2 separate regions of the Homo sapiens genome follow, and region 2 is linked to region 1. Evidence: fine-mapped expression QTL. A gene starts in region 1. The other region holds a variant in brackets. All regions are shown on one strand. Distances are between the middles of the regions. Region 1 holds the start of DNAJB11 (DnaJ heat shock protein family (Hsp40) member B11). Region 2 has its middle 5.7 kb from the start of LINC02020.

The links.
Region 2: its variant is fine-mapped to the expression of DNAJB11 in tibial nerve (GTEx, PIP above 0.99). The same link has a PIP of 0.9 or more in sigmoid colon and sun-exposed skin.

The regions. Positions count from the first base shown.
Region 1 is chr3:186,569,253-186,572,169 of GRCh38, reverse strand. DNAJB11 (DnaJ heat shock protein family (Hsp40) member B11) reads right to left here and starts at 1,450. Exons shown (of 10, transcript NM_016306.6): 1 at 1,205-1,450; 2 at 1-75. The coding sequence starts at 1,272. It also overlaps a transcript of TBCCD1 not described here. RefSeq lists a silencer at 1,199-1,438.
Region 2 is chr3:186,433,224-186,436,140 of GRCh38, reverse strand. No RefSeq gene overlaps it. Among named protein-coding and RNA genes, the nearest start is that of LINC02020, 5.7 kb to the left of the region's middle. The variant A/T (reference allele first, on the strand shown) is at 1,794.

The sequences.
Region 1 (2,917 bases):
AGTTTCCTATAGGCCTTTTTAATATCCTTTATAGAGGCACTTCGAGGCACCCCCAAGATCTTATAGAAATCTCGTCTGGGAAGTAGAGGGAGAGAATACTTCATTAAAGAGTTACATGTTACATTTTTCAAAGTAAAAGATTTATTTTTCCTCTACATTTAGGTTTGTATCTGAGCAAAGAGGTATAAAAATGAAGGTTTATGTGACACATACACACACAAAGAATGACTAAAGAGAGAACACCAGAATTTGTAATGAATCTTATATATTGAAGTAATCACAGTAAGAGGCTATATACTTCTTTTCGGATTATTCAAAACATCTGTGGCACTTTTCTTTCAGAACCACCTTCGGTCAAGAAAACCACTTCCTTATTTTATGGTCTCATGTTATCTTTAGGCAATAACCATATAATCAAATTAACTCTTCCCCCCTTTCCCTATACTGGCTCCAAATGATTTTGACTTTTCTAAAAGTCAAATAACACTCTCAAAGGATGATTTTCCTTCTTTAAAAAGATTATGCCACATAAATGTCCTAACAGTAGCACTGCCAGAATGTTAAAGATGAAGCAACTTAAGATAATAAATAGCTCAAGAAGCTGGGAAGTACAAGGGCTGTCTAAAGATCTTCTTGTTCCCATCCCGCATCCAATTTCGTTCAGTCCCAACTCGGGCTGGCATCATCCACCCACTTTAATGTCAGCCCCAGAATGGCTCTTCGAAGGCTTGGCATAGAGCATCGTCCGCTTCTCCACCTCAGCGGGGCACAGCAACTCACCTCTTTGATCAAACAAACGTCCATCCCCTCAACCTCAGCCTGGCACTGTCACTATCTTTCCTTACAGTCAGGCATCCCTCTTTCTTCCCCAGCTCTACGTGACACTGCTTCAGCTCGCAACCACCTTCTTTCCCTCATCCCCCAAATGCCGTTTGGCAATGCATCCAACTCCCACTCCTCTGGGCAAATCTAGCTCTACCTAAGACCCTCTCTGGACCTAAGGCCCTCTCACTGGTGTCACCCACGGTTCTCCTCTCACCCCACTAGCCTGGCCCATACTACCCCTTCCTCCGCCACCCCGCCAACCCACAGCGATGCCCCTCTCCACTCCGTCAGTCTGGCAATGCCACTTCCCCCACCCCCTCCCACCCCCCAGCAAAGGCTGACCCACAGGCCCCGTTGTCTGCGAGTGTCTGTTCCTCACCCGGCAATCACCGCCCCGATGAGGTATAGCAGCAACAGGCAAAAGGTGCTCAGGTTCTGCGGAGCCATGGTTCCTCTGTCCCGGGTCCTGTTCCACACACTCCTCACAGCCTCCTCCGCCGCCGCGTCGGCTCGCCAGCCCACCCGGCCCTGTGAGGCCGCCTCACACCGGGGGGGCGCGGGGGTCTCCTTGGTCCGCAGAGACAGCTAGCTAGCCCCCTCTTCTGCCGGTCCACTTCCCGGGAGTCCCGAGTCCCGGTGAGAGAAGCCCCCGGTAGGCGAGAGCCAATCGTTGCCCGGGACATCACACGCGGCCGGCGCCTGGAAGCCAATCAGCGCAGTACACTTCACCTCCGAGGCGGCACGGGCAACCAGTTAGGCTTCAGAACTGCAGTCGCAGCTCTTGACCAATTAGAAGCGGAGACGTCAGAGGGTCGCGCCGCTGCAGGAACCCGCTCTGCCTGAGCTACCGCGAGTCGTAGAAAATTACGTAATGATAGGGGGCCGGTCAGAGTGAGGGCACCTGAGGTACACGAAATCCCTCCGGCTTGCCCACTTCCTCGGACTTTCCACCAATCAGGAGCTTCCTCCCCAGCACCAACCAATTGTGGGAGAGAAGTTTTCTCTGTGCTACAAGCCCGGAATTTCATTCATACCCAGCTACGCTCCGAATGAGGGAGCAGAGGTACAGCGGCCGAATGAGCGGGAACAGTTATTCCACGACAGGTGTACATCAGACGCATTGCTTAGGCCTCTTATTTTACGTTCTCCAAGCAACTCCATAAGACAACTGTCTCGGAAAGGCTACAGTGATGACAGACCGACTTAAGTTCGGATTCGGCTTCCACCGCTTCTTAGTGGTGAGACCCCCCACCCCTCCCCTCCTCCCAAGTCTGAGCCTAAGTTTATCAACAAAACTGAGGCAAAGCACTTATTGGCAGTTCTGTGAATTTTAACAGGGAAAAAAATCGGTAAATCATCGGGCGTATAGTAAGCAGGCAACGAGTAAAAACCATTATTACGGTTCAAGCAGAACTCTTTGATTCCCCATCTTCCCCCCGATTTTGCTCATCGCAGTTACACAACACCTAGTTGATCAGGACAAAGCTCTAGGTGTTTTTATTCCTTTCATGCATAAGCTATCCAACTCTTTACCTCTGAACTATACTTCAATCTGTTCACTACATCTCCATTACCAGGATTCTGGGTCACAGTGTATCTCTCACCTGGCCAGGGCCTCCTAACTGGCCTCCTTGCCCCCACTCTTAATATCTTCCTTAATATCTTAATATATGTTGCTCATCCCTGTCCCTCACTCCATGATTTAAAAAAAAAAAAAAAAAGCCCGGGCGCGGTGGCTCACCCACCCAAAGTGTAATCAGCACTTTGCGAGGCCGAGACGGGCGGAGCACCTGAGGTCAGGAGCTTGAGACCAGGCTGGCCAACATGATGAAACCCTGTCTCTACTAAAACTACAAAAATTAGCCAGGTGTGGTGGCGAGCGCCTGTAACCCCAGCTGCTCGGGAGCCTGAGGCAGGAGAATTGCTTGAACCTGGGAGGTGGAGGTTGCAGTGAGCCGAGTTCCTGCCACTGCACTCCAGCCTGGGCGACAGAGTGACACACCGTTTCAAAATAAATAAATAAATAAATAAATAAAAAATAAAAGTCAAATCATGTCACTCCCCTGTTTAAAAGCCTGGAATGGCTCTTCAT
Region 2 (2,917 bases), 140 kb after region 1:
TCCACTCACTGCAACCTCCCTGCCTGATTCTCCTGCCTCAGCCTGCCGAGTGCCTGGGATTGCAGGCGCGCGCCGCCACGCCTGACTGGTTTTCATATTTTTTTGGTGGAGACGGGGTTTCGCCGTGTTGGCCGGGCTGGTCTCCAGCTCCTGACCTCGAGTGATCTGCTCGCCTCGGCCTCCCGAGGTGCTGGAATGGCAGACGGAGTCTTGCTCACTCAGTGCTCAATGCTGCCCAGGCTGGAGTGCAGTGGCGTGATCTCAGCTCGCTACAACCTCCACCTCCCAGCCGCCTGCCTTGGCCTCCCAAAGTGCCGAGATTGCAGACTCTGCCCGGCTGCCGGCCCGTCTAGGAAGTGAGGAGCGTCTCTGCCTGGCCGCCCATCGTCTGGGATGTGAGGAGCCCCTCTGCCTGGCGGCCCAGTCTGGGAAGTGAGGAGCGCCTCTTCCCGGCCGCCATCCCGTCTAGGAAGTGAGGATCGTCTCTGCCTGGCTGCCCATCGTCTGGGATGTGGGGAGCGCCTCTGCCCCGCTGCCCCTTCTGAGATGTGAGGAGCGCCTCTGCCCGGCCGCAACCCCGTCTGGGAACTGAGGAGTGTCTCTGCCCCGCCGCCACCCCGTCTGGGAGGTGAGGAGCATCTCTGACCGGCTGCCCCGTCTGAGAAGTGAGGAGCCCCTCCGCCCGGCAACCGCCCCATCCGGGAGGTAGGGGGCAGCCCCCGCCCGGCGGCCGCCCCGTCTGGGAGGTGGGGGGCGCCTCTGCCCCACCGCCACCCCGTCTGTGATGTGTACCCAACAGCTCATTGAGAACGGGCCATGATGACGATGGCGGTTTTGTCGAATAGAAAAGGGGGAAATGTGGGGAAAAGAAGGAGAGATCAGATTGTTACTGTGTCTGTGTAGAAAGAAGTAGACATAGGAGACTCCATTTTGTTCTGTACTAAGAAAAATTCTTCTGCCTTGGGATGCTGTTAATCTATAACCTTACCCCCAACCCCGTGCTCTCTGAAACATGTGCTGTGTCCACTAAGGGTTAAATGGATTAAGAGTGGTGCAAGATGTGCTTTGTTAAACAGATGCTTGAAGGCACCACTCCCTAATCTCAAGTACCCAGGGACACAAACACTGCGGAAGGCGGCAGGGTCCTCTGCCTAGGAAAACCAGAGACGTTTGTTCACATGTTTATCTGCTGACCTTCCCTCCACTATTGTCCTATGACCCTGCCAAATCCCCCTCTCCGAGAAACACCCAAGAATGATCAATAAATACTAAAAAAATTTTAAAAAAAAGAAAGAAAAAGAAAAGAATAAAGGACTTATTATCCTAAAAAAAAAAACAAAAAACAACAACAAAAAAACACCCACTAGGATAGTCACAATAAAAAAATTTCTAATTTAAAAAATGTGTTGGCAAGAATATGGAGAAATTGGAACCCTCACACATTACTGATGGGAATATCAAATGGTGCATCCACTGTGGAAGACAATTTGGTGATTCCTCAAAAAGCTAAACAGAATTGCCATGCAATCCAGCAATTCCACTCCTAGATGTGTACCCCAAAGAGCTGCAAACAGGTGCTGAAACACATACTTACACATGAGTGTTCATAGCAGCACCCTTCTTGATAGCCAAAAGGTGGACACAATGCAAATGTTCATCAAGTGATGAATGAACAAGCAAAACGTGGTATCTAAGTACCATGGATTATTACTCAGCCATAGAAAGGAATGAAGTACTGATACATGCTACACTATATGTGAAATTTTAAAATATCATGCTAAGTGAAAAAAGCC[A/T]GACACAAAAGGTCACATATTGTGTGATTCCAGTGATACGAAATATCCAGAATGGGTAAAGCCACAGAGTCAGAAAGCAGATTAGGAGTTGCCAGGAGCTAGCGGGAGGAGAGAATAGGGAGTGGCTGCGTAGCGAGTATGAGATTTTCTTCTGGGATAATGAAAATGTTTACAACTAGCTAGTGGTAGTGGTTGTATAGCATTGTGAATGTAATAAATGCCACTGAATGAAACACTTTAAAACGGTTAATTGTATGTTACATGAATTTCACCTTTTGTTTTTAAAGGATGCATTGAGATATCATGCCCCCACTCCTGTCCCTCATCTTTAACCATTTCCACATTTCCTTTATCCTTCCAGGGCTGAAGGATGGAAACAGTATTCTGCCTTCAAAGAGAAAGACAGGCAAAACCCCAGCAGGCGTGTGTTGCCCCAAGTTTCAGAGCCCACAGAATATATAGAAGAGCATTCAAGATAGGACTGTACTAAACATTTAATGTAGAAATAATGCCAATTCTACATTAATTCTTCTACAATATTGTGGAGAGGAAAATAGTCCCCCACTCATTCTCATTAAAGCCAGCATCGCCCTGAAACCAAAACTAGACAAAGACACTGTAAGAAAACTATAGACCAATATCCTTCATGAAAATTGATGCAACAATTTGAAACAAAATTTTACCAAATAACCAACAATATATAAAAAGGACAATACATTATGACCAAGTGGGATTTACGCAAGTTGAATAGTACTGGGTTGGTTGAACACTCAAGAATCAACAATGTAATTTGCCATAGTAACAGATTACAACAACAGCGACGTGTGATCATCTCAATGGATGCAGAAAAGCCATTTGACAAAATCTAAACACATTCCTGATTTTAAAAAAAAAACCTCTTAGAAAACTAGGAATAGAAAGGAACTCCCTCCACCTGATAGAGGCTGTGTACAAAATACCTAAAACTAACATCGTATTAAATGCTTTTTCCCTAGTACCAGGAACAAAACAAGGATGTTGGCTCTCCCCATCCCTATTCAACAACATATGGGAGGTTTTATCTGGGGCCATCAGGCAAGACAGAGAAATAAGGTTATCCATATTGGAAAAGGAGAAATAAAACT